4 linked regions of the Homo sapiens genome follow. The protein of the gene in region 1 interacts with the protein of each later gene in a pairwise test. Each region holds a gene or a part of one and is shown on either strand. Other genes may lie near its edges. The genes, in order: PRKAA2, GRAP2, ZNF212 and AVPI1.

The links.
Region 2: the proteins of PRKAA2 (region 1) and GRAP2 interact in binary tests that used the Homo sapiens proteins (3 or more experiments, as listed by UniProt).
Region 3: the proteins of PRKAA2 (region 1) and ZNF212 interact in binary tests that used the Homo sapiens proteins (3 or more experiments, as listed by UniProt).
Region 4: the proteins of PRKAA2 (region 1) and AVPI1 interact in binary tests that used the Homo sapiens proteins (3 or more experiments, as listed by UniProt).

What each region holds. Positions count from the first base shown.
Region 1 is NC_000001.11:56,704,300-56,711,323, reverse strand, and holds part of PRKAA2 (5'-AMP-activated protein kinase catalytic subunit alpha-2), read right to left. Parts: coding exon 6,849-7,024; intron 5,233-6,848; coding exon 5,106-5,232; intron 3,850-5,105; coding exon 3,611-3,849; 3' UTR 1-3,610. UniProt on the Homo sapiens protein: Catalytic subunit of AMP-activated protein kinase (AMPK), an energy sensor protein kinase that plays a key role in regulating cellular energy metabolism.
Region 2 is NC_000022.11:39,904,080-39,911,103, forward strand, and holds part of GRAP2 (GRB2-related adapter protein 2), read left to right. Parts: intron 1-7,024. UniProt on the Homo sapiens protein: Interacts with SLP-76 to regulate NF-AT activation. Binds to tyrosine-phosphorylated shc.
Region 3 is NC_000007.14:149,234,812-149,242,650, reverse strand, and holds the start of ZNF212 (zinc finger protein 212), read right to left. Parts: upstream 3,001-7,839; 5' UTR 2,873-3,000; coding exon 2,849-2,872; intron 1-2,848.
Region 4 is NC_000010.11:97,684,237-97,691,682, forward strand, and holds the start of AVPI1 (arginine vasopressin-induced protein 1), read right to left. Parts: upstream 3,006-7,446; 5' UTR 2,530-3,005; intron 1-2,529. UniProt on the Homo sapiens protein: May be involved in MAP kinase activation, epithelial sodium channel (ENaC) down-regulation and cell cycling.

The sequences.
Region 1 (7,024 bases):
AATAGTTGCTTATGATTTTTTCTAAACTATGTCTCATTTAACAGTAAAAATCAATTTGTATTCCCTGAGTACAAACTGTCTAGGGAATAAGAAAAAGCAAACTCAGAATTATAAAACTGTCCTGAAAAACCCATTTGCAGAAAATGGAGAATTGTTCATGCTACATATAGCCAATACCCTGACATAGAAATATAATTATTTCTGATTAATTTAGCCTTCTGGATTCTCTTTATAGATAGCTAGTATAAAGGAATGTAAACACTAGAGATTACAAAAGTGTCTCTTAACAGGTTAATCAAAACAAAAACCCAACTTGTAAATGGTTTGCCTACTTCCCTCCCTGCATATTCTATTTGAGAAGGTAGCTGTTCCTACACTGAAACATAAGGAATTAGATCTTCATATGGTATCCCAAAGAAAAGTATTTAGAAAATGTTCACTGACTACACATTTTAAAAGTAAGAATCAGTGACACTGATTCATTACCCACTGAGCCATAAGCATGAGTCATTAGTCTCTTAGACTTTTTTTTAACAAGTAATCTTGTTTCAGGTTTTTCAGTCACCCATGCATAAGAATAATGTTGCACTCAAATAATAATACAAGATGATTAAGAAAACCAAGGTGTCATGAAACAAGTTGCAGACACAGAAAATTCTATTTAATCCAGCATTCACTCACGATGAACATGTCTGCAAGTTAAAACAAAGTAATTCTAATTTTCAATCAGATTCTCCCAACAACCAGTAAGAGAAATGGAAGTGTTAATTATTAACTACCCTAATTATGGCATTCTGGGACAGTATTTTCCTAAAAAATGTATTTCCCAAATTTGCTTTTCATGGGCTATTAAGTTTTTTAAAATGAAAAATTAATTTGGGCAAAGTTCAACAAAGTTATGTGGCTTTCTTTTTTTCACAGAAAGACCTGTCAAAGTCTTTAATGCTGACATCCACTGTCATCTTCGAGGGGAAGAGTAGCATGCAACATTTTTCAAACTTAGTCCATGCAATCATTTTTTCTGTGGAGCATCTCACAGGATATACTTTGGGAAATGCAGTTCTAGAACTACATGGAGTCCATTTCCATGATATAACTAAGGCCTTATCTATAACCTCATAATAGAAGCTCTTCTCCCGTGTCTTCACTGGAGGAAATTATTCTTAGCCCACATCTACCTATCACATTCAGAGTTTACAACACTGAAATGTGGAAATTTGGGGCTAACAACTGATTCTTTCCCTCTATCTGCCCATGAGCAACAAAAAGCCTGCTGTAACAATGTTCCAGCTCTAATTGTGCTGGACTGCATCTCCTGAAATCTTCTAAAAACCAACCACCTAGATTCACAAAATAGCTGTTTTAAAAACATACACATAAAAGAACCCAAACTGTGACCATTAGTTCTCCTAAAATTCAGTAGGTAAATATCAAGCTACAGCTGTTCATAAATACTGGCAAGAATTAGAAAACAGTAAATAATTAACTCTCAAAAAACATGGCAATAATCCATATAAGGTAATTTTGATATGAACAATTTTTTAATATCTGACCTATTAGACTAATGGAGCTAAAACATCACTGGATTCCTTCTGTTTCTCTGCCTTCAAAATTTTTGTGGATTTTGTCATTGGGGTTAAGTAATCTGATTAGTTCCTTATTTCTAAGGTAATTCCATTCATAATCAGGCAAATATTATGAGGTGGCCCTGTTTTTTCCCAAAAGAGGTATGGACCCATTTAGAGAACCCAAAACTATGCCATATCTATAATGGACCAGGCTAACACAGCAGGACTGCTTATCACTATACAAATAATCATGTAAAAATTACCTTTTGGTGCCACAAGATGGCAGTCTTTCAATAATTAAACCTTAAACTATCTCAAATTGCAACCCGCCCTCCTTCCCAAATTGGTGAACTATTCATTTATCTTGATATTAAGAAGTTGGACTTATAAGTTATTTAACATCAGTTTTTAAAAGATCTGCAAAGCCATATGATGTGACACAACGCAAACTCCTGATTCAAAGAATATTTAAAGATAGACACACTTGTTTTCCACTAACACAGGAGAAACTTAGTCTAACATTCTCATTTGCTTCTTGGCAGAACATACATTACTTTTGGCAAAGAGAAGCCTGTCAAGGTAATGTCATTTTTTTGTTTTCAAGAGCTTAATTTTTTTAGGGTAATCCAGGTAAATAAGTGTTAATTACAACATAAAAATAACAAATGAATAAATACAAATTAGATAAATTACACAGAATTTAAAATTAAATACTTTTACTAAAACAAAATATAATCAATAAACTATTATCTACCCTGCTATAGTTTGTGTTTTTTTAATCTTAAAGAAAACCTGCACAAAGCAAAACAAACAAACAAAAAAACTGGTTTTTGCTTAAAAGCACTGGTGTGTGAATATATATATTTATTTATTTAAGATAAAAATTTTTTCTTGATGTTCAAAGCTTCCCTGCCCTATCAGGTTCAACAGTAAAGGTCATAGCCAGCCCTTAGGGCCAGAACAGTGTTTTCAAACTTGGACTAGAAAAGATTCAAAGCTATATCAATCAACCACTCAGGATCAAACAATGAACAAAGACAATAGTGACTAGGTGAGGTGAGGTGAAGGGAGTGGCTTCCAATGAAGAATTAGCATTATGAGCTGCACCAGGACCCTAACACCTAACACAGAAAATAAAGATCAAAGATAAGGATTCTCATTTAAGGGACTGTTGATACTTTGCTTTGTTTCATTTAACTATTTTATCACTGTTGGTGAAATGCAAAAATAAATAGAGGCAAAAAGAATTTGAGAAAGGTAGATTTTGAAGACATTTTTTAAATGACGTAAGTTTATGTAAAAGACAAAAGTTGTTGCAATTCCAGATGTTCCAATATTAATTTGAAACTTGAAGGCTCTTAAGATAAATATATTATTCAGGGAAATCTCAAGATAAAAATCCTGAGTTAGTTACAGCTGTTTTTAAGAAACCTGAAAATTGTGGTTACCTGTTACATGACCACAGTCCTTCTGTTGAATACACTAGGCAGTATTTGTACAAATACTGTTAGAAAAACTTGGCTTCTGAAATCTTGGAGGCAGGTTTTTAAGATTTCAACATTTAAATAATATCTTACTCGTGGTTCTTTTACTTTTTAATCTTCTTTTGTTAAAATAAATTGGGGGCATAAACACAGCATAAAGCCTACTGAAATTTAGGAAGTAAACTAGATTTACCTACACCAAACAGCAAAGCAAGGAGGTGTTGCCAAACCACCCTTACATTGAGATGGTTCGCCAGTGTGGTGTGTTAATCGTCTGTAGTGAACTCATTATTGTAATTAAAAATCTTCATTGATATTAACCTATTAAAGATATTGCCTATGTGAATTTATCATAGGCACAATAGAATTACAGATTTCTACAAGTAAATAAGATGTCAGATATTTTGTTTTCAGTAATTTCAATAGCATTGTGTGCCCCTGGAAATAATTCATGTTTCTCAATTAGTATTGCAGTGGATATTATCCAAAAGTAAGATAAAAATTTAAAGAATATAACTGATTTTCATAGTGCAATAACAGAAAGAAACTAGAGACAGATCAACGGGCTAAAGTAGTAATCAGACTGGCACACATTTCAAAAAAATCCATGGTGTGACTGCCCAGGCGAGGTGAAACTGAAGACAATGTGCTTCCGGTCAAAGAGCCAGTGAGAGAGCCAGAAAGTGAATGGCTCTCTGCAGTTGTGGAATCAAAACTTGATCTTGGTCTGTGTAAGCCAGCAGCAGAACAGGAACGCTGAGGTGTTGAGGAACCAGATCTCTGCTCCACTACTTCATCTGAAATGGACCAAAGAAGAGCAATTTATATGGAAAGTATATATGCCCAAGCCCTTCCTATGAATTTATGATATTCAGAATATTAAGTAAACACATCTGAGCAAGGGCAACTTAATAATGAATGTCATGTTTCTGTGTTGTAGAAACACAGTCTTCTTCCTTCCAACAATCATAACAAACATCGCTACCAATCACAAGACTTGCACACAGTCAAAATGTGGCCCCTAAGTCCTGCTCAAATTGGAGTAATCGGCATTGATATTGGAATCAAACTGATATCTCTGCATGTGAAGAAAGCATATCCTTGACAACTTATTTTCTTCTAGCATATCAACAAAAAAAATCACTAAGGTAAAAACAAAAGTCACCATCATATATTGCCTTGGGGAGGTGGAGGGCAAAGTGAGAGAAATCTTGTTAAAACTGCATTTTCTACGATTCCCAGGACCAATCTCCAGAAATTCTGATTTAATAGGTCTGGAGTGGTTCCCAGGGATCTGCGTTTTAATAACAACAACATGTAATTTCGATGAAACAGGTCTGGGATCCATATAAACACTACCATACATAGTTGATGGTAGTTCAAGAGTAAAATTTAAATGCTTCGTTTAAAACAACTTCCCTAACTCTAAACTCCGTTCCATTCTTGTTCCATCCAGCACCTGACCCTTAGTTTATTCTGGTTTTATCCCACTTGGGCCTCTGAAATGAATAATCAGATTTGGTTTACCCAAGTTTAATTCTTGGCACACACTAAGTTCTTGGACATGACAATTTTCCCTGACGCCTTTGGCTCCTTGATTGCCATGGGTACCTAAATCCAACCCAAATCCCAATGGAGACCTATTTGGTCGCCCTGGCCACCCAGGATGAGGAAAGGTGATGAAGGAGAAAGTTTAGACACTATAATACTAACTAATAAAATATGAATGGAGAAATATGACAAAGAATCTGACAAGTCAGTTAATTTTGAAAAGTAAAACCTGCTTCCCTGTTGTTCCTTACTTGTGCTCCACGGCCAACACTTCAAATGATTCTTTTACGCCACGGAGATACTTCTTGTGGAAAGATGCCAGGTAAGAGGTATTCAACATGTCTTTCATCCTTTTCACTTCACTTACATTTTGGTTAAGTCTAGATTGCTTAAAAACCAGTGCAGGACCTACCCACCGGATGTCTTCGAGATGATTTTAACATCTGGTCAACTAGTGCCAAGTTTTATCTTCTCAGAGCTCATGCATGCATAGCTTCCTTACCATCAATGCTTTTAAAGTCCAAAAGATAGCTCCTGTTATCAACCAGGTAAAGTTGTAAGCTCATTTTCACGTAATTGCCAGTCACTGGATTTTTTCTTCTTACACGAAGATGGTATGCATTCACTACCTAAAGTGAAAAATCAATAAAAATAATAAACTACAAAATATCTACCTTTTTATGCAAAAAAAGTCAAAACAAATAATTAATAGGGGTGAGGTAGGAAAGGAATACGAATAATTTTTTTATATTACTGGTAGTTCACTTTAGTATTTATTTAATCCCCACTAAGCAGTACTGTATGGCAATTAAGATTTAAAGGAAAAGCTACTTGAATAAATTTGGGGTACTGAAGAAAAAAGTGAAAGATAAAGGAAAAACTTAAAGAGAACCCAGAGATTACATAGGGTCCAGCTTTCACTCTAGATAAGCATCAACTCTAAAACATCAATTCTAATTTGGTTGTCCAGTCTCTGCCTGAACATGTTCATGGATGATTATGGAGTAGAAGGAACAAAGAGGACCAGGCACAGTGGCTCACGCCTGTAATTCCAACACTTTGGGAGGCCAAGGTGGGTGGACCGCCTGAGCCCTGGAGCTTGAGACCAGCCTGGGCAACATGGTGAAACCCCATCTCTACAAAAACATACAAAAAAAATCAGCCGAGTGTGGTGGCAGGCGCCTGTAGTCCCAGCTACTAGGGAGGCTGAGGTGAGAGGATAGCCTGACCCTGGGTTGCAGTGAGCCAAGATCGCGCCACTGCACTCCAGCCTGGGCAACAGAGTGAGACCCTGTCTCAAAAAAACAAACAACAACAACAAAAAATAAACAAAAAAACAACACTGCTTTGGGTTTTCAAAACATCTGTGGTACTAATTTCAAAATGTTTCAGTACAGAATTTTAAAAATGTTAACGTCTCTTTTTTAACTAAATAAGACTGCTCCAAAACAGAGAGATCTGTTTTTTAAATGATTTTAAGAAAATATTCATTTCATGTACAAATAATAAAATGAAAATGACTGATTTATTTGAACACGTCAAATGCATATTTATGTGGTAAGTTTGCACATTTTTCTTCTTCCTTTAAAAGTTCACAATCCTCAAGAAAAGAACAAGAGTGAAAGGCATATCTGAAAAGAAAAAATGCCCCTCCCCACACATATATTCAAATAGAACTCAAATGAAATTGAGCACTAATTTTTAAGAAAAGCAAACTGTGGGCTGAGAGTAAGGAAAATGTACTCTAAGTATTAAAAGCACTAGCCAAATAAAAGAGAATATCACAACTTGGAGAAAAGTGTTTATTGACTGAATAAATATGTCCTGATGATATAATTTGTATCAACCACTAGCTATTACAGCCACCTGCCTCTGTCACCTAAAAAAAAGAGAAAAGAAAAATAACCTCCCTAAAAAAAAAAAGAGAAAGTAAAAACATACTATCTTTGAAGACACTCATGATTTTTCATTGCTATGATGCATGCTGAAACTGGTAAGCTATTTTCTCAGATGATTTCTAGTTGATTACTTTTTTCTTGACCAAGAACACTTCTATAATTCAAAATATGTTGGTTCCCAGTATCAACCACTTTTCATCCTTATAGAGGTTATTTGTTTTGTTTTTAATGTGCATAGCATATTACTAGAAAAAGTTGGGCTTAATACTCAACTCAGGAGCTCAGAGCAGCTTATAATATAGAAAAATGGCTTCTACAAATGATCTTATTACATTATAATTTCCTACCTTCCATTCAAAATCCAGCTGCTTCATAGCTCGGTAAACTTCAGCCATAATGTCATACGGTTTGCTCTGACTTCGGATTCCAAGATGCCACTTGGCTTTTTTCACAGCTAAAGATTTGGGCTTAGTCGTATTCAGTGCATCCAATGGACATCTTGCTTTGGGGCTGTCTGCTATAA
Region 2 (7,024 bases), on another chromosome or scaffold:
GACATACCTTAAGGAGATAGTGAAGAACAGCCGGGCACAGTGGCTCACACCTGTAATCCCAGCACTTGGGCGGCCAAAGCAGGCAGATCATCTGAGGTCAGGAGTTGGAGACAAGCCTGGCCAACATGTTGAAACCCTGTCTCTACCAAAATACAAAAATTAGCCGGGCATGATGGCAGGCGCCTGTAATCCCAGCTACTTGGGAGACTGAGGCACGAGAATTGCTTGAACCCGGGAGGCAGATGTTTCAGCGAGCTGAGATCGTGCCACTGCACTCCAGCCTGGTCGACAGAGCAAGATCCTGTCTCAAAAAGAGGAAAAAAGAAAAGAAAAGAAAAGATAGTGAGAAAATAACTGAACATAAAACATAAAGAAAAGTTGAAATATTAGTACTCACTACCTAGGTTCAACAATTGCTAACTCTTTGCCGTATTTGCTCCATCTATACCTATTTCTTTCTGAATTACTTGTAAGTTGCAGATAAAATAATACTTCACTCCTAAATAATTCAGTACTCATCTAAGAATAAAGGCATTCCTCTATCTAACCACAATTCCATCATTAGGCCTAAGAGGATAAACAGTAAGTCCTTAATATCATCTGATAGCTAGTGCAGATTTAACCTTCCCCATTTGTCCCCCAAATGTCTTCTATACCATTTTTTAAAAAAAGAATCTAATTTTTAAAAATAAGAACATATTTTGCAGTTGGGTCTCATGCTTCTTTCTTCAACATTGGATGTTTTTAAAGATTACGCCAGTTCTCTTGTACCAGGTCCCACTTTCTGAATTCGTTGTTGCCTCATGGTTAATTTGTTCCTCTACCCACTTTATTTCTCATAAGCTCCAAGTTAGGACTAAAAGCATGATTTGATTTTGATTGAACGTTTTTTGCAAGGTGCCACTGGGTGCTCCATATTGCATCTTATCAGGAGGTACAGAATGCCAGGTTGTTCCACTGTGCATGATGCCAAGTTTGATCAGGGCTTGAGGTAGTGATCTTGCTCAGAGGATCTCTTGTTGTACAGGCACTTTTTCACCCTTTGCAATTAGCGAGTACTCTCAGGGGGTATCTCAAAGTGTATCTCATAAACACTTTGGCATGGTGGCAATATCCTATTTCCCAACAAACTCTCACCCGGTGACTTTAGGTAATAATCTTTGCCTAAATTGATTATTTCATTGGAGTTCATATATATTTTTAATACGCTTTGAAGATGGACTCGACATGCAAATTCATCATTATCAGCAGCAATAGTGGCTGGAAATATTTATTGAGTGCATAAGTTCAGGTAATAATAATAATAGTAGGTAATGTTTATTGAGTGCTTGCTGTGGAGCCAAGACAGCCTCGGTGTGAGCCCAGTCTTTCACTTACTAAGCGAATGAACTGGGACGAGTTATTCTTTTTGTGCTTCAGTTTCTTAAGCTATAAAATGGGATTACTAATGGTGCCTATCTCGTGGGATTGTTCTGAAGAGTAAACGATTTATACATTTAAGGTTCCTAAAACAGTGCCTGTTATTATTGTTATTTGCCAAGCATTGTTCTAATACTTTGTAGGTACTAACTCGTCTACTTCTTCTAATGGTGCAATGAAGAAAGTGCTAATAATACCCTTTTTTCACAATGAGGAAACTGAGGTACGGAGAGGTCTAGTACGTTGCACAAGGTCACTTAACTAGTACCTGGTGGAGCCAGGATTTGAACCCAGGCTGTCTGGTTCCTGAGCACTCTCTCTGATGATGGGCACATGCAGTGAGGAGTGATACAAGTGGAGCTGAGTGGAAGTAGCCCTCACACACACTCAGACTTGAAGTTATTGAAAATCCGGGAGGTTGCCACCCAAACACATTTAAGGTTTAATTCATCTGAATAAGAACAGCATTCCACTAAGCCCAGATAAGTACTCTTATTACATTTACATAGCTTAAGGCTCTGTACAAGAAACCTTGAACATAAAATACTTGGAACAGAAAAGAGTAGGAGAACTATGAAGTAATGGGGGGAAAAAATCCCTGAAAGGAACAATACAAGCGGGGAGTTATGAGACCTGGGACCTCAGAGCCTCGGGGTGGAAGATGATATTTTGATATAATCAGGAGGGAGAAATTTCCTCTCATTTTTCACATTTCTGTACTATATAAGATTTTACCATAAAACGCAAGAGTATAAGCCATTGTCAGATTTATAAAAGGCCATGGTGGATTTCCTTAAGAGACGATGGATGACTGTTGTTAGTAGGTAAATTCCCTGGTTGGTTATCTCATACACTCAGATATTCCATAAGTCAGCCTGTGGCTTCTGAAACTGTATTGAGAAAAAGCTGTATAAACTAGGTGTTGGTCCATGCTCCTTCATTAGCATTACAAAAGGGTTCGACTGCTGAGTTGAATCTTATCCACTCCTTCAGTGGCCATTACAGAAAGCTCTCAAGTGTAATTTTCTAAAGAGAACTAAAAATAAATAAGAAAAAAAAAATCCAGCATTAATAATGGTTCTTTTTGCATTTCCAACACAGTCATTGCCAAATTGGTTCTGCCTTTTTATGTTTTTTAATGAAAAGCAGCCTAATTGATCAATTGGTCATGAATAATACTTCTTCGTTTGTTTTTCTCCACACCCCCCAGCCTTCTAGAACCACGGGCTTAATGTGTCGGCCTACAAATGGTTCATGATTTGTGTTTTTTGTCTAGTGCTTTATGGGAAAATATTAGAAACAAACTGCTGAGAACTCAGTAGGAACTCAGTAAATAATAAGTAGATAGTTCTCTTGTTAAATATGATTTTAAAGAAACTCTTTCTAAATAACTAGGAAATATTACAAGGGAAGTACAAAGTGGGGTGGAAAGCCTGGCTGACTTGTAATTTGAAATTTCTCTTCATCATTTTATAGGTCACACAGTTTAACCCTTTATAAAACAAAATGTAAAGTCTGATAGCTGAAAAGGCTCTCCTCCGCTAAATAGATTTGTTTGAAAATATAGATCATTAAATCGGTAAGAATAACAGGAGAATCTCAACCAAACATTGAGACAACTAAGAAAATTGTCTAAATCTAATACCTTATATCAGTACTTTAAGTTGACCATAAATACGCTGATATCCATAGCACATAGGTTCTTACTGGCAGTGGTGGGGTGGGTGGGGGAAGGGGAGTGTCACAGACACATTCAAGATGTCAACGAAAACTATGAAAACTCTCCCCAATGGGGAAAAAAAACCAACGATGCCTAGCACTTATCCTACGCAACTTTGTACAGAATTTCCGTGGGAAATTCTGGTGTCCATCCATCATAAATCACCTGGTGTCCACCCATATATCCTGAATAGGAAAAATTGTCTTTCTCTAGAGTTATTGTACACTGATCCTGATGGAGCTTTAAAAAGAGTTGTCGTACAGGCTCATTGACTTTGGGAGGACAAGGTGGGAGGATTGCTTGAGCGCAGGAGATTGAGACCAGCCTGGGCAACATGGTGAGGCCCCATCTCTACAAGATATTCTTTTAAAAAATTAGCCAGGCCCAGTGGCCCGCACCTGTAGTCCAAGTTACTCCAGAGGCTGAGGCAGGAGGATCCCTTGAGCCCAAGAGATCAAGGCTGCAGTAAGCCGTGTTCACACCGCTACACTCCAGCCTGGGCAACAGAGTGAGATCCTGTCTCAAAAAATAAATAAGTAAATAAAAAGAGTTGCCATTATCTTGTTTGATCTGGCTATGATCTTTGAGGTAGACAGACCACAGATTTTACCTCTCATTCTGCAGAGTGGGAAAAGCAAGGCTTGGAGAGTTTCCGGGACTTGCTCAAGGTAATTTGCTAATGTCTGCCGGGACGTAGCACCAAGCCTGTCACGCTGTAGGCTGGGCCCCTTCCACAACACTGGTCCAAACACAGGATTCTGGAGATGCAGGAGCCCTCGATGGGCTTCTGGAAAGCTGAATTCTGGCTCTACCAGAGCTACCCACGTGATCTTAAACAAGTCACCTAACTTCCCTGAGCTTCAGTTTCTTCCTTAGTCAAGTGAGAGGTTAGACTGTGTGTTCTCTGAAGCCCTTTGATTTTCTGCAGAAAACCACCTAATCCCACTGGGTCTGGGAACAGAGGGAAATGACCTTTTCTGCCATAGATGGCAAGACCCTTCACCCTTCCCTGTAGGGCATAAGAGCTGGCATCCAATTCTTAACGGATTCCCTTGCAATGTCCAAATCCCATTAGAAACTACAAACATCTCAATAGTGCCTTTGTGGGCTGCTTGGGTGTCATGCCGCTGGCTGCCTCACTTGCTGCAGGGCTGACTGTCCACATCAATTATACTCCAACCCTGTGCTCTGCAATGGGCAGACATCCCATGAGATTTTATTACCCCTCTTGGGTAGTTCAGGGAGTCATATGGAAGTAAATAATGCTGATGGGCTTATTTTGGGCTGATAGATCCTTATCCTTCTAAAGAGGTTATGCCTTTCAAAGGGTACAAAACCTTCTCCTTGATTTTTTATTACGAACAGTTATATCCTTTAATGTCCCAGAATTGTTCTTGGAAGTTGGAGACTCACAAGAGGGCCTGCAGCTGTGAATGCAGAAGTCCTGAGACTAGGGGAGGACATCACCACTCTCCCTTGGCCTTTGGAGTCATCCAAGCTAAGTGCTAATATTTGTGATTAACAGGTGTTGATAGGAAATTGGGCCCCTGTGTCTCAGTCTTTTTGTGCTTCAAATTTTCTAAGTGAACTTCAGGCTGGCAAGTGGAGTTAGATCAACTTGTTGCAGACAGTATCATCTGCTCGGTACCGTGTCAGGTCACTGGACTGTGGGAGGTTATACTGACCAGTGATGAGAGTGACAGAGCATGAGCTTGGCTCCCGTATCCTGTGTTCTGTGCTCAGCCTCACAGATGACTCACTGTGCCTCATCGACTCCTCTGTCCTCGAGTGAAATTATGCCATTCTTTAACCCACTATACAAGAGACTTTTGAAGATTCATGTGTGGCTACCCCCAACAATATCTCATTTGTACAATGCAGAACATGGTGCTTTCTTGTGTAAACAAACTCATTTTGTGGAATTTTTATTTTCTAGATCAATATTTTTAAATAGACTACTAATTCATTTTATAAACCGGGTACTATAAGATTTTATGAGTTGACACTTGGTACCCTGTAAGTATCCAAATAATCAAAGAAGGAGAAAGTGTGAAGTCAAGGAATCCCCTAGCTGAAAAGAAATTCCCAATACCTGGAACAAAAAAGATGGAGCTTTTAGAGAGCAGACTTTTTCTCCAGCAAAGATCCACAACTTCCATTTTTAAATGTAAGACGTAAGGGAGATTTATGATACAGCCTACTTTGTCAGATCATATTATTTCATAAAGTGAAGGGTCAATTAGGTGTTATTATTATCAAGAAAGCATGCTGTAATGCTTCGTCTTGTAGATGCTGTAAAAATTACCTGTCTGATTACTTTAATTCATCTTTTGGCTACTGTCTGCAGAAATTCACTCAGTCCCTAGCTCACAGGTATGCAGACGTACTGAGAACACTTTGGGAAATAAAAGCAAAAAAAACATTGGGTCCTTTCCCCTAAGGAATGAACAGTGTATTTGGGAAACTAGGAAAAACAAACAAACAAAAAAATGGTACCACAATGCAAAACTGATGAGGAGATTAAAAAACAGCTCAAGATGGAGATTTTTAGAAAGAACTTCTTGAAGGAGGTGCATCTGTAGGCTGAGAGAGATGGTTTAGCAAGCAGGCATCAATGCATCCACAAAGCTTTACACTTCAAGGAAATCATAGGAGAAACAGGGTCTTCTTTGCTGAAGATCTGTTTATTTTGCAAACAACAAAGAGTCAGAAGAGCCATGTGAAGTTTCCATGGGGAATCCAGAAACTAAACTTCTGCCACTGGAAATTACCTCAAGATCTTTTCCCAGATAGCCTGCTCTTCCCCTGCTTCCAATCATGTCCCTCAAAGTCTTCTTTTTCAAGCATAAATATCCTTAGTTCTTGTAACCACTCCTCCTATGAGGCAGTTTTGCGTGCTGCCATTATTTTAAGCACCCGCCTCTGATTGGACTCTAGCTTAGGGCCTCCCCTAAGTCACGGGACTCAGAACGGAGCAACGCTCTCCAGGAGTGATCTGAGGATGCAGAACACCATGGGGTAGTTGCCTCCCTTGATCTGTAGCCTATACTTCTATTAATATGGCCCATGATTGCATGAGCCCTTTTGGCACCCATGTCACACTGCTGACTCATATCGAAATTGTGGTCAACTAAAACCCATGAGTTCCCATGCACTACTACTAAGCCAGATCTTTCTTTCTTTTTCTTTTCTTTTTTTCTTTTTTTTTGAGACCAAGTCTCGCTCTGTCGCCCAGGCTGGAGTGCAGTGGCGCAATCTCGGCTCACTGCAACCTCTGCCTCGTGAGTTCAAGTGATTCTCCTGCCTCAGCCTCCCGAGTAGCTGGGATTACAGGCGCCCGCCACCACGCCCGGCTAATTTTTGTATTTTTAGTAGAGACGGGGTTTCACCATGTTGGTCAGGCTGGTCTTGAACTCCTGACATTGTGATCCGCCTGCCTCGGCCTCGCAAAGTGCTGGGATTACAGGCATGAGCCACCATGCCCAGCCAGATCTTTCTTATTCTGTACTTACACTGTTGATTTAAAAAAAAAAAAAAACCCTAGGACAGAGGTTTAAATGTAAAGACATTTATTTCTATTTCACTCGATCATTTTGATAACAACTTGTCCAAATCTTTCAGAGCTAGGGTATTAGCTTCCCCTCCCTGCAGGTGAGTACTTACCTGCTGGTGCAGCTAATCTCATGATGGATCTCTGGCCTCTAAAGGGCCAGAACTTCATTGTCTCTTTCCTATCCATAAATTCTCTGCAACCGTGGATGAATCTGCATCCTTAGACAAACTAGTGGGCCTCAATCTTCCTAAGTAAGATAGGAATAAGTGTGAATGGCCATTTCCTCCTTGCGGTGAGGATATGCGACAATGAGTTCGATGTCTGCAAAACCC
Region 3 (7,839 bases), on another chromosome or scaffold:
TTTTCAGACTTTCTATTTGGGAAAATTTTCATTTTACCTGAGGTATATCTTTTAGAATTTCCTTTTCTAAGAGTGTATTGGTAGCAAACTGTCATTTTTAATTTGTCTAAAAATGTCTTCTTTACATCTTTGTTTCTGAAACATTTTTGCTGCATATAAAACTATGGGACCACAGTTACTTTCTTTCAGCCTATTGACAATATCATTCTACTTTTGCCTAGCTTCCATGGTTGCTGTTGAGAAGCTGGCCCCCATTCATTTTGCTGTACTTCATTTCAAGGTAGTCTTTTTTTTTTTTGGTTGCTTTTAAGAATTCCCTCTGCCTTAGGCCGGGTGCGGTGGCTCATGCAGTGGTAATCCCAGCACTTTGGGAGGCCGAGGCAGGTGGATCACCTGAGGTCAGGAGTTCAGAGACCAGCCCAGCCAACACGGTGAAACCCCATCTCTACTAAAAATACAAAATTAGCCAGGCATGGTGACGCATGCCTGTAATCCCAGCTACTCCGGAGGCTGAGGCAGGAGAATCGCTTAGAACCTGGGAGGCAGAGGTTTCAGGCAGCCAAGATTGCTCCACTGCACTCCAGCCAGAGCAAGAGAGCGAGACTCTCTCAAAAAAAAAAAAAAAAAAAGAAAAGAAAAGAAAAAGAAGAAAAGAAAGAAAAGAAACGAAACTATGGCCAGGCACGGTGGCTCACGCCTGTAATCTCAGTGCCAAGGTTTAACAACTTACTTTGCAATCATCTGAAGGTCAGACCTTACTTTCAGTTCACCCTTACACAGAATGTTACCCTTTGAACTCTCTGCTTCATGGGATTGGGTTAGGGAGCTTCTTAGACTTTCCATCTTAGGCTCTGAGATGTGTGTTCCATTTTGCAGGTCCCTTGAATCATAAACACCAAAGATGAATGTTTGGCCAATGCCCTCAAAGTTGGCTTCAGAACTCTATCACTTTCGAGTTTCCTCTTTCGCTTAAGTTTTGGGGCTCCAAGTATTCTTTACTAAAATACATTTCAAATGCATTTATGTGCAGGGTTTTCCAGCATTTTCAGTTGTTTCATCAGGGCACCTACTTGAGCTTACTGTTAAATGACAGACACCTGAAATGTCTGAGAAGAGAAACAGGCTCAAGAACAATTTGAATAAGTTCTACAACGACAGATTCATGTTATTTAAGGCATAGTTTGGGATTGTGGTGGACTTTTTTTTTTTTTTTTTTTTTGAGACAGAGTCTTGCTCTGTCACCCAGGCTGGAGTGCAATAGCACGATCTCAGCTCACTGCAACCTCCACCTCCCAGGTTCAAGCGATTATTCTGCCTCAGCCTCCCGAGTAGCTGGGTCTACAGGCACCCGCCACCACGCCCGGCTAATTTTTGTATTTTTAGTAGAGACCGGGTTTCACCACATTGGCCAGACTAGTCTTGAACTCCTGACCTCGTGATCCGCCCTCCTCGGCCTCCTAAAGTGCTGGGATTACAGGCATGAGCCACTGCGCCTGGCCTGTGGTGGACCTTTAAGGCTTCTTCCTAACAAGGTCTACTGACGACATGTAGGTAATTGTGGAGTGACCTGGCAGGAAGAACTGTGGCAGAATCCTCTCGCCGGACTCTAACACTAACTAGATCTTGTGGAAAAGCCAAGTCTTTGACTGGCTCAGCCTAGCTTATAGGAGTCAGATGAGGTTAATATTGTAAACATTTGTGTCTTGTCTTCCCAATTCAACTGTTAACTTCCTTGAAAGCAAATACTGTGTTCTCTAAGTCTCCCAATCTCTCCGTTCTTAGTTCTTAACGCACTTTCTACAAGAATCAAATATAGCGCACCCTGCTCATGGTCAAATTTTCCCCACAGAATTTCCTTAGCCCTCCATTCTCACAAAGATCTAACATGATTCTCGAAGTGTTTCTAGACCAAGGAACACTTCATTAAAAGTCAATTCAATTCCAGCTGCCCCTTCCGTTGCAAACCCTCTGGTGTTGTTAAATTAACCACTACTTTGAAACAGTATGGGAACAGTATGAGAATGTCGGAGCTGGAAGGAAACTTAAAGCCTTGGAGATCATCTAGCAACTACTCCAACACTCTCGATTTACAGTTAAGAAAACGAAAGAGACCCAGAGAAGCGAACACAGTTGCCTAAAATCACCCAAATGGACAGCTGAAAGCTTCGTGACTCCACAAATAGGATTTTCCTCACACCAAACTCCGTATCTTGACATTCCCAGAATGGGGATGGTCGGTGGGCTGGGAGGGGGGTGTTGGGGGGGGGGTGAAGGAGAGAGTTTGGGCAGCTCTACAAACAAAATGCAGCAACTGCACTGTAGATAACATCCGTCCCCAAGGAGAAGCAGCCCAGGCTGACTTCAACCTGTGGCTGCAACCCCCAGACAGAAATCTGCAGCACTGGAAAAACCGACAACACATCGGACCGAAGAGGAGGTGGTCGCAGAGAGGCAAGTCCTGGGGTCTCCCGGGCAGCGGGAGAGCTCACTCGTAGCGACGGAGACCGTTTCCAATCTGGAAACACTCCAACCTGGGAACGGGCTCTTTTGGCACGAAAGAGAAAATGTGTGGGCAGGGTCACAAATCCACCAACCTAAAGCAAGCGTCAGAGAAGTTTCTGGGCAAGGGCGCACGGCGCCGAGGCTCCGACCCCGCTGCAGAAGGAAGCGGAGGGAAAAAAGGGCAGAGCACTGGGGTCGCGAAGAGGAGGGTCCGCGTTCACCCGCGCCAACGGCAGCCCCGGGAAACCAAGACCCCGGCGGCGTCCAAACCGCGAAGCCCCGCCCCCGGCAGGGGACTCCGCCATCCCCAACGCGCCCTCGAGCCAGCGCGCCGGTGCCTCTTTACCCGAGCAGGCGCCGACTCCGCCATGGCTCCAGTCGCCCCTCAACACCCAGACCCCGCCTCGGAGCCCCCGTGCTGCGTTCCTGTCCGCTCGGCGCCCCAGAGCCTGTTGGAAGCCGCCGCCGCCGCCGCCGTGTTGATGCCAGGTGCATTCTGGGAGCAGCGACCTCCCCGGCACAAGACCGGCTCCAGCCGCTCTTCCTCACTGTGCAGGCTTCCCATTGTGCCCCCGTGCGGCGGGAGGGAGAACGCTGCTTGGCACTCCCGGCCAGAGTGCGGGCACCAGGAGGGCTCAGTCACTCAAAAGTCAAGACCAGGTTCCGCGTTTCAGGCAAAGCCACGGGATCCTGCTGTCTTCCGTATGCCCAGCACTCTGCTAAATGCTTTGAGGGATTCAAAAATGTGTACAACTCAGACTTTTTGCTGAGGAAAGAACATGTAATGTTGTTGGGGAAAAGAAATATGGTTCCAAAAGGCAAGTGATTTTATTCCAAAAGTTCACCTGTTATTTGGCTTTTTAGAAACTGGGAACAGTTTCCATATCAACAGTGTGGAGCGTGGGGTCAGGCCCAGGCCAGCCCTCTGTAGCCTGTTAATTATGGTAATCATGTGCCTTGGAAAGTCCAAGACAACCCTGATTTCAAATATTTCCAGTCCTCATGCTACATGTAAGACGATGTGTCTGGAATTTTTGTTGGAAAGCACGGCCACATGACCATTTAATCGCCATGTACTTAATCCCCAATACCAGCAACACTACGGCAACCATAGCTGCCTAATTTATACCATTGTCTCTCTGGAGACAAGCAATGAACTTCCACTTCACAGGATAGGCGTGAAGTGTTTCCTCTGAGAACGAAACTTTTTTTTTTTGAGATGGAGTTTCGCTCTTGTTGCCCAGGCTGGAGTGCAATGGCGCAATCTCGGCTCACTGCAACCTCCACCTCCCGGGCTCAAGCGATTCTTCTGCCTCAGCCTCCCTAGTAGCTGGGATTACAGGCATGTGCCACCACGCCTGGCTAATTTTGTATTTTTAGTAGAGACGGGGTTTCCCCATGTTGGTCAGGCTGGTCTCAAACTCCCGACCTCAGGTGATCCGCCCACCTCAGCCTCCCAAAGCGCCGGGATTACAGGTGTGAGCCACCCCACCCGGCGGAGAACGAAACTTTTAAGATCATGACTGGCTCCTTCCTCACATGCAGGGCTCAGTTCAGATTCTACATCCTCAGAGAGATATCCCCAGTCCCCCCTTTCTACAGCCCCACACCATCCTCCATCTCAATACTCAATCTCGTTACCCTGCTGGAAATTTTTCATACCATTTATCACCATCTGAAGTAATCTCTCTTTTTCACTCATTTACATATTAATTATCTGTATCTCTTCCACTGAAATGTCTGTCTACTGTATCCTCCATTTGTTGTACACAGAAGTGTTCATATTTGTAAATGATTGAATGGTGAATCAGAGTGTAAGGATATGAAATGTCATCTCAAACAGAGGCATTATTTCCAGGGCAACTAGATCAACGGGCACGTCACTGAATCATTAATAAATCTAGAGAAAGAATGGGCCAGGCTGAAGAAACCGGTCAGTCAGGGAGATCCTGTCCAGAGGGTCTGACCTAATCTCTCAGACCAACAAACTCTTGGTGTCAGATACAGAAAAAAAAAAAAATGTGTCATGGGTGAGGTGGCTCATGCCTGTAATCCTAGCACTTTGGGAGGGCAAGGCAGGAGGATCACTGGAGTTTGAGACCAACCTGAGCAAATAGGCAGACCCTGTCTCTACAAAATTAAAATTAAAATTAAAATGAGCCAGGAGTAGTGGTGCACACCTGTAGTCTCAGCTACTCAAGAGGTTGAGGTGGAAGAATCATTTGAACCCAGTAGTTCAAGGCTGCAGTGAATCACGATCGCACCACTGCACTCCAGCGTAGGCAACAGACCAAGATCTTGTCTTTAAAAATAAAATAAAAATGTTATCCTCCACAGGCACAATATCAGGACATAGGATGCTGAGGTCATTAAACAGTTCGGTCGTAGAACTCATTCCCTCTATTCTATTTCTATACTCACAAGGCAACCTTCTGACGTTGCATGTTGCCAGGTAGCTTCTGGGAGGCAACATGCAGGTGAAGCTGATGCACATGTATACCTCAGTCTCTTGAAAATGAGCATGTTTCAGCATCCCAGACTCTGAGCCTGGAAGTCTGGAAAAAGGTTCAGATCAAATTTCCAGCCTGCAAAGGAGGCAGCACCAGGCACCAGGGTTGCAATCACGTGGGCTGGTGGAGATGGTGTGGCGCCTGCAGTCCCCCGGGCTGATGAAGACAGTGTGGCACAGTGATTTGCTAAGTGGGGCTGGGGAGTGAGACCGTCTGGGTCCCTAGCCCAGCACTGCCAGTATATTAGGTTTCTCTAGACAGACTAATAGGATATATATATAATGTTATATAAAGGGGAGTTTATTAAGTATTAACTCACATGCTCACAAGGCTCCACAATAGGCTATCTGGAAGCTGAGGAGCAAGGAGAGCCAGTCTGCGTCCCAAAACTGAAGAACCTAGAGTCTGATGTTCGTTGATGTTCGAGGGTGGGAAGGGTCCAGCATGGGAGAAAGAAGTAGGCTGGGAGGCTAGGCCAGTCTAGTCTTTTCACATTTTTCTGCCTACTTTATATTCTAGCTGTGCTGGCAGCTGATTAGATTGTGCCCACCAGATTGAGGGTGGGTCTGCCTTTCCCAGCCTACTGACTCAAATGTTAATCTCCTTTGGCAACACCCTCACAGACACACCCAGGATCAATACTTTACATCCTTCAATGCGATCAAGTTGATTCAGTATTCACCATCACAGCCACTTACTAGATGTGAAACTTGGTCAGGTCTTTAACTTCTTAGTACTTGTTTCCTCATGATTATTGGTGAATAGATAACAGTACTTAGCTCATAGAGTTGTGTGAATTAAATGAGTGAATTCAAGTCAAGTGCTTAGAACAGTACCTGGCACAGAGGAAGAGCTCAAGAAGTACTCATGATCATTATTGTTGTTTAGTCCCAGATCCTTCATTTACTAAGTGCTGTGGCTCATGCTCACTCTGCCCTAGTGTCCTTGTCTTCCACTGAGAATGTGAACACCTCATCCTAAGGTTGCTGATGGAACTAAAAGAAAGAATTTATGTAAAGTGCTTATGTAGCCAAGTGCCCGGCATACAGCAAGCACTTGATAACAGGCAATTTCTTCTCTCTGCTTTACTTTTGCAAGGTCCAAGCCTTGTATTGCAATGAGTTCAGCAGGATAAATGTGGCTTTGTTGTGTCTCTTAGAAACTACCCATTTGTTTTTTCCAACTGACATTCAAATCTTGACATATGCTGTTTTAAAAAACGTTGTTGGCCGGGTGTGGTGGCTTACGCCTGTAATCCCAGCACTTTGGGAGGCCAAGGCAGGCGGATCACAAGGTCAGGAGATCGAGACCATCCTGGCTAACATGGTGAAACCCTGTCTCCACTAAAAATACAAAAAATTAGCCAGGTGTGGTGGCGGGCGCCTGTAGTCCCAGCTACTCCAGAGGCTGAGGCAGGAGAATGGTGTGAACCTGGGAGGCAGAGCTTGCAGTGAGCGAGATTGCACCACTGCACTCCAGCCTAAGCCACAGAGCGAGACTCCATCTCAAAAAAAATTGTTGTTGTTTTTTGTTTTTTGTTTTGAGACAGAATCTCGCTCTCTTGCCGAGGCTGGAGTGCAGTGGAGAAATCTTGGCTCACTGCAACCTCCGCCTCCCAGGTCCAAGCGATTCTCCTGCCTCAGCCTCCCAAGTAGCCGGCATTACAGGTGTGTGCCACCACGCCAAGCTAACTTTTGTATTTTTAGTAGAGAGGGGGTTTCATCATGTTGGCCAGGCTGGTCTCGAACTCCTGACCTCAAGTGATCCACCCGCCTCGGCCTCCCAAAGTGCTGGGATTACAGGTATGAGCCACTGCGCCCAGTCCGTTTTAAAAAACTTTTTTTTTCCTCTTTTTTTTTGAGACAGAGTCTCTCTCTGTCACCCAGGCTGGAGTGCAGTGTCGTGATCTCCGCTCACTGCAAGCTCCACCTCCCAGGTTCACGCCATTCTCCTGCCTCAGCCTTTTGAGTAACTGGGACTACAGGCACCCGCCACCACGCCCAGCTAATTTTTTTTTTTTTTTTTTTTTTTTGTATTTTTAGTAGAGACAGGGTTTCACTGTGTTAGCCAGGATGGTCTCAATTTCCTGACTTCGTGATCCGCCCGCCTCAGCTTCCCAAAGTGCTGGGATTACAGGCATGAGCCACCACACCCGGCTTAAAAAACTTTTAAATGAAGTTCACAGTTATTCCCATTAGTAGCATTGGTATTCCAAGAATCAAGAAAATAGACATTTAGTACTTGTAGCCTGGCATCTCTACATTTGTAGAATATGAATGCAACATGCAGAGCTGAAAATGACCTTAGACATCATCTCACCCCAGACCCTCATTTTTAGTGAAAGAAAAAAGTATTCTTTGAACAAACAAATAATATACATTGTTAAAATAATGTTTTAATAATATTTATCTTGGCCAGGTGCAGTGGCTCATGCCTGTAATCCCAGCACTTTGGAAGGCTGAGGTGGGAGGATTGCTTGAAGCCAGGAGTTGGAGACCAGCCTGGGCAACATAATGGGACTCCATCTCTACAAAAAAAAAAAAAAAAATAGCTAGGCATGGTGGCACACGCCTGCAGTCCCAGCTACTCGGGAGGCTGAGGTAGGAGGATCACTTGAGCCCAGGAGGTCGAGGTTGCAGTGAGCTGTGATCACGTCACTGCATTCCAGCCTGAGTGACAGAATAAAGCCCTGTTTCACACACACAAAAATTATCTTATCCTTTAAATTTGTATCATGTGTATGATTTATAGCATACATATTAGCCTATATAAGTACATATATGTATGCCTGTTTTTTTCTCAAAAAAGTTTATAATCCATGGCTTTA
Region 4 (7,446 bases), on another chromosome or scaffold:
TGGCCTCACCTCCCCAGGAAAAGAAGGGCAATAAGGATCATGTAGCAGCAGCTGCCTCGGGGAGGAAATGGCTTGGAGCCTGACTTCCCAACAACCTCTCCCAGGATGGCAAGGCTTTGACTCCACAGCTTCAGCGAGCTGCGAGTCACAAACATACCAAGAAACCCTCAGGGAGAGTCTGAGCCTCCAGCCTCAACCCTCCTTGAACCTTAGGGAGGGCCTAGCACCTCCAGATTTTGAGGCCCCTCACTCTTTTTACTCTTTTTTTTTTTTTTTTTTGAGGCGGAGTCTCACTCTGTCACCCACGCTGGAGTGCAGTGGCGCAATCTCAGCTCACTGCAACCTCTGCCTCCAAGGTTCAAGCAATTTTCTTGCCTCAACAACCTCCCAAGTAGCTGGGATTACAGGTGCCCACCACACGCCCGACTAATTTTTGTATTTTTAGTAGAGACAAGGTTTCACCATGTTGGCCAGGCTGGTCTTGAACTCCCGACCTCAAGTGATCCACCCACCTCATCCTCCCAGAGTGTTGGGATTATAGGCGTGAGCCACCATGACCGGCCAAGCCCCTCACTCTTGGCTCTGTCTCTTATTCTGGGATTCAGACAGCAGAGTGAGGCTGGGAATAAAACTAGGCTGATTCCAGGTAGGATTAGATGGTTAAGTTTTGGGAAAACCGATGAAATGTCGAATCAGAACACTTTTATTATCAAAGGAAACTTTTCCTGTCTCATTCCATGTGTTCAATAGTTATTTTCCCTCCAATTTCCTGGAGAAGACCTTAGTCCAGGAAAAGTCAGTGTATACTTGCACAATAGTACTTTTGAAAACTAGAAAATGAAACCATGGGGCTATTAAAAGATTACAAATGGACCTTTCATTTCAGAACTGACATAAAAGAAGGTAAGTATGGGTCTGTGTACAAACGAGTAAAGACCAATTGCAAAATACTTCAATTTGACACAAACTAGGTTGAAAGTGAACCCCAAAGGAAATACCAAACATTGAAAATGACAAAGTTCAACTTGTTTTGAAACAGGCAATAAGTGAAGAACTGTGGAACCCTAACAAAGAAATATATTTAAAAAGTGACTCACCATGCAATGAATTTGCAATATATAAATATGGCGCGCAATTGAGCACTCTTTGCAATATATGAAGTTCAGTTCAGACAGCTATTCTAGGAGAGTATCTCACTGCAGTCCCAGGGAGGCACAGGTAACCACCAGAGGCAGAACACATTTGGGTGAGCTGGCAACTCCTAGGTCCTCATGCAGGAGGAGGCCCCCTTCCAATAACCCAGGTGATAGCAATAATCTCTGTAATCAGGGGCCTAGGGGCTCTTAGAAAAATTACTGGAGGCTCTGGCCCAAGGCCTGAATCAACACTTGGGACCCTGGCCTGCTATCCTATACAGACATGCCACTGGACAGCAGCCAAAATCTGTGGCTCCTCAAATGGGAAGCCCAGTTCAAATCGCTGTGTGGGCTTCCCCACCAGCAGGGCCTAGCCTCAGGGAGGTATGCCGAGACAACTGGATATACATTGGCCTCCAAATCCATGCCCCTGGAGGTGGAGAAAGGAACTGGGCCCTTTCCCCAGACCAGTTCTCATATATGACCTGGAAATAAACTGCTACTAGATCTAGGGATAACCCTTTCAAGATTTCTAGAACCCTGAATTCTGGCTGTGCTGCTAACTGGGTGACCTTGGATAAGTCTCAGTTTCCCCTGCCACAAGTTGCTCGTCATCAAAATAGTATAAGGCCAGGCCTGGTGGCTCACGCCTGTAATCCCAGCACTTTGGGAGGCTGAGGTGGGAGGATTGCTTGAGCCCAGGAGTTCCAGACCAGCCTGGTCAACATAGCAAGACTGCCTCTATAAAATTTTAAATAAGCTTTTTAAAATAAATGGTGAGTATAAATAACTCTTAACAGGAAAAGGGAGATTAAGTTTGTGACGGCATTCCTTCTAGTACCTGGTATACCACAGACATTCTATGCATGCTGGTTGAATGAATAAATGATGAAGGGAAAGGCTGTTTGACTACCAGGGGCTATAGAATCATTGTCATTTTCATCATCACAGCCATCAACAAATCTGTGTACTTTTAAATCATAGCTTTATGATTAAAATCATAGAGGCAGCTTGTTCAGTGTCAAGCGCAGAACAGAGCACGTTCAGATGGGTGCTTTCTTTCCTCCTCACTTAAGGTGGCACTATTGTTATACCCATTTTACAGATGAGAAAGCTACACCCAAAGTCACACAGCTGGCAGGTGATGGAAGCTGGGACATGAACCCAGGCAGTCTGACCCCAGCACCCGGGCTCTCAAGCCACTGTTATTTTTGTTCCTGCCAGATGGCTGAGGAGGTCTTCTGGGGAAGGTCGGTCCCAGAAGCCTTTCGGAGGCTATCTGCTTCTGTAGATTGTGGAAGGAGCAGGGAGGGATCCAAAGTCAGGACTCCCAAGCTAGCCTCTGTACCCTCTGCACTCCACTGCCCGGTGGAGAATTGGAGCAGGTACTCACCACACTGAAGGGCAGCTCCGACAGACCTCAAATGGGGATGGGGCAAGCTAAGATGCGCCCACTCCAACCTCTTCCACAGCCTTCAGAAAGGGCAGGCGCAGCTCTGCGAAGGTGCTTACAAGGGCCAGTCGGTGATCACGGGCAGCACAAGAGCATGGCAGAGGGTATCCTGGCCGAGGTCCTAAGGCGACATCTGCAGCACGAGGAGGCCCCGGGACTCAGACGTGGCCGCTTCGCAGAACGACGGGGTCCTAAGTGGATCTGGCGGTCGCGTCCCGCTGGCACCCCGGCTCTGACTGTCGCCCTCCGGCTCCCACCGCAGCGCCGAGCTGGGCCGCCGACCTACGTACCTGGTTGCTTGAGGCAGGCCGCACGCAGCCCCAAACTGGTCCGGGCCACTTGGGTCACAGCCGCGGTTCCCGGGAGAAAGCGCTCCCTAGCCCCGGAACAGCCAATCCTCGGCCCTAGCCAGGTATGAGCTCCCAGGCGAGCCTTCCAAACCCAAGGCGGAGTTCCGTGCGCCAATCATCGGTGGGAGACAGGGAGGGGGCGTGTCCATCCCCGCCCCCCGCCTCCGCTGGCCTCGAAAGCGGAGTGCGAAGCTTCCTCAAACCTAATCGGCGGCGGAGCGGCGGTGAGGGGGCGTGTCTGCCCGGGCCCTGCCCACCGCCCTCTCCGCCCCCGCGCGGCGCCCGAGGCGCCCCCTTCATTGACGTCAGTCCCCAGGGCCAGCGCGGTTTTGCTGGCGCGGGAGCTGGGCGGGGCTGCATTCCTGCCCCAGGGTGCGGCGAAAGCTGGCCCTGCCGGGTACACGTGACGGATGCCCCTTCTCCTGGGCCCGAGGCCAGCGCGCGCGGCACTGACTGCCTTGCAGCGCGTGGCCCTCTGCAGATCCTCAGACTCTGCCGCTCAAGTCCCCTCCCAGCCCACCGTTTGGCTCCGGCTTTGAGGGAGAGGAGGGGGCAGTCTGCTGGAGTCAGACCTTGGGCTTCAAAGCCAGAATGTCGTGGGTTCAAATATTGGGTCATTTGTGCGACTTTGGGCCGGTTACCTAAACAAGACCGTATTTTAAAGTTTGTATGCATTCGGAAATGTTCATTAGTGACCTATGCTGTCCGAGTTCCTTGATAGGCCGTAAACAAGAGAGACGGAAAGACCTATAGCCCTTGTCCTGGGGAGTCTACAGCCTAGTAAGGGAGGCAGGCATTAAACAACCTAAAACATGGAGTATGTGATTACAGTTGTGATCAATGTTATGGCTATAAGAGGATAAATATGGAGGAACCTAAGCTTCCTCTGGGAGGTTCAGGAGGGCTGAAGAAGCAGCATTTAAGCTGAGATATAAAGAAGGAGTTGAAACTGGTCAAATGAAGAGGAGTGGATCTGGGGAGACTGCTTTAAGGAAAGAGGGAAAGGCATTTGGTTGGGCCAGGAGGTAGCTTGGCTCCGGAGGAATTAAATGCGACCCGGAGTAAGGCTAGCAAGAGAGAGCACGGTGGGAAGTAGAAGGCAGAGGCAGGCAGAGAAGGTTGCATGTGATCCTTGGAGGGGTTTAAACAAGGAATGGCATTATATGTACTGTGTTTATGTAACGGGCATTTTATAGTACTTACCACGTACCAGTAGTGTCAGTCAGCACTTTGCAAATTTCATCATCATGACAAGTTTGTGTTTTTAGAAGGTCACTCTGGCTGCAGTTTGGAACTTGGATTGGAGGGGGCAGGAGTGGAGGCAGGGTGTCCAGTAGGCCTCTGATAAATGCTTGTTTTGTCCTTGGAAGATGAAGTGTTTGTGCACTTGTTCAGCAATGCTCAGGAAAGGCTCCTGGGTCTCCCTGACTTCCTTTTTACTTCATAGCTGACCTCTTATCCATTTAAGCTTGATTTTTCTTCTGTAAAAGTTGTGGGTGGGAAGGGGAAGAGCCAGCACATGGGGCTTTGTGAATTCCTTGTTGCAGCGTGAAGGGGATGCTTGGGAGCTATTTGTCCTCACCCCATGATCTCCAGTTCCTCTCTCTGTCCTTCTGCACAAAAACAGCGTAAGTGTTGTTGTGCTGTGGCTAAAAGGGTTTTTTGTTTTGTATTTTTGAGACAGAGTCTCACTCTGTTGCCCAAGCTGGTGTGCAGTGGCACCATCTCAGTTCACTGCATCTTCTGCCCCCTGGGTTCAAGCGATTCTCCTGCCTTAGCCTCCCGAGTAGCTGAGACTACAGGCACGTACCACCACACCTGGCTAATTTTTGTATTTTTTAGTAGAGATGCAGTTTCACCATGTTGGCCAGACCGGTCTTGAACTCCTGACCTCAGGTAATCCACCTGCCTCGGCCTCCCAAAGTGCTGGGATTACAGGCGTAAGCCACCATGCCCGGCCGCTAAAAGGTTTTTTTGTTTGTTTGTTTGCTTTTTTTGAGACGGAGGCGCACTCTGTCGTCAGGCTGGAATGCAGTGGCACGATCTCGGCTCACCGCAACCTCTGCCTCCCGGGTTCAAGCGATTCTCCTGCCTCAGCCTCCCGAGTAGCTGGGATTATACGTGCAGGCCACCATGCCCGGCTAATTTTTGTATTTTTAGTAGAGATGGGGTTTCACCATGTTGGCCAGGATGGTCTCGATCAATTGACCTCGTGATCCTCCGGCCTCAGCCTCCCAAAGTGCTGGGATTACAGGCGTGAGCCACAGCGCCCGGCCCGTTAAAAAGGTTTTTACAGTGGCTTCTCTTCACTTTTCCTCAAGCCCTGGGGAACTGTTGAAAAGAACAAAGAAATCAGCGATGTTCGTCTCCAGTGGAAAGTATTGGTGCAGAGACTTTCAGCCAACTACTTTGCTAAGGAGGGGACTGTGCAGGCTCCTAAACCAAAGGCTGAGCTTCTGAGCCAGTGACTCCCACTGGCCCATTCTAACCAATGGGGAAGCCAGACTCTTGGCATATCAGTGCTGGGTGAACCTAGGAACTCTGATGCCATGAGCTTAGATGAGCATCCCGAGGTAGGAATTGGGAACTTGTGGTTTCTGGCTCAGATGTGACTAAGGCTGGGTGGAGCGTATCTGGTATCTCCAAACATTTTTGCAGGCATGTGACCATGTGCTTACCACACAATGGAACCATTTCTGTTGTTACAGCTTTGTGATTCAATACTTCTGGCGAGAAGGTGGGGCACTCCACAGTTGTGTGGGCCATGTAAGCCTCACCAGAAGTGGAGTAACATCTGAGACCCACAGAATGGTGCTGGAGACAGTAATCACCCCGGACGGGGCCCTGTTTAGAGAAAGTCAACTCTGGGGAATGGAAACCTCATGAAATTCAGGCCCAAACTTGAGTTTACCCAGGGGCCTAGATTAAAGTGAGTTTAGTGAGGAACTCCCTTCAGGCATAAAATTTAAGAGGGCACCAAAAAATTCAGGAAACCCAAGATAAATAATATCTTAACACAATATTTTTAAAAATCGAAATTAATGCAAAAAATCCATGATGAACAGAATATCAACATTTAAAATATAGGCAGACTATTGTTTATGACCTTGCATTATTTTGCAATGGGAACAGTCATTACCAATCAGCCCATGGTTCCCAGGCAGACTGCCACTGCGTGTCCTGACAAGTGGCTTTATGAGAGTTGACAATAACATGTGAACAGATTGAATAACATGGAACTTTATATGTAGTCTTTTTTTTATTGGAATGCTTTTATCCACTTGTTCTATTTGGTTCAAAATATGGAAGGTAAGTGCATATAGGACATATATTTTTTCTTTTGTCTTGGGCTCGAATATGGTTCAACTCAGTACTGGTTTTTACCCTCAAAGGAAGTAAAGTCTAGGAAGGGGGTTCTAGCTGTTTTACCTTAAGCAAATGACTTAATTCCTCTGCCTATTTTCTTGTCTTTTTTTTTCTTTTTTTTGAGACAGAGTCTTGCTCTGTCACCAGGCTGGAGTATAGTGGCCCAATCTCAGCTCACTTCAACCTCTGCCTCCCGGATTCAAGTGATTCTCCTGCCTCAGCCTCCTGAGTAGCTGGGACTACAGGCGTGTGCCACCACGCCCAGCTAATTTTTGTATTTTTAGTACAGACAGGGTTTCACCATGTTGGCCAGGATGGTCTCTATCTCTTGACCTCGTGATCTCTCTGCCTCGGCCTCCCAAAGTGCTGGGATTACAGACGTGAGCCACCCAACCTGGCCTCTTTTTCTTGTCTTTAAAATGAGAATAATCACACCACTTTTCAGTGTTGCTGTGAAGATGAATTGAGGTACTGTAGGCTGAGTTCTTAATATACACCTTGCTATAGACACTAAACCAGCATTGGACTCCTTCCCTCTTTCTATCCTGCAGGAATGGTTCAAGCAGCTGGACAGTTATGGTTCCCTAATGGGGCTGACACTTATTCCCATGGGTTTCTTATTGCTATTTGTCCTGTTCTGGGCAAAGCAGAGAGAACTTTTACACTCAACTGACATGCAACAGTGCAACTTTTGAATTAACTCTGATTTTCTTGATAAATAATCATGGGCATTCTAAACTTTTTAAGAAAGCCCCTTCTGCTTATGACATTACACAAGGCAGCTAGACTATAGCCCTCTTCTATCAAGTGACAATCTGGACAGGCGAAAAATAGCAAAGTCCTTATAGAAAAATGGTACAAGCTGGGCGCCGTGGCTCACGCCTGTAATCCCAGCACTTTGGGAGGCTGAGGCGGGTAGATCACAAGGTCAGCAGTTCGAGAACAGCCTGACCAACATGGTGAAATGCCATCTCTACTAAAAATACAAAAAAATTAGCTGGGCGTGGTGATGGGCGCCTGTAGTCCCAGCTACTTGGGAGACTGAGGCAGGAGAATCGCTTGAAACTGGAAGGTGGAGGTTGTAGTGAGCCGAGATTGTGCCACTGCACTCTAGCCTGGGCAACGAGAGCAAAACCCTGTC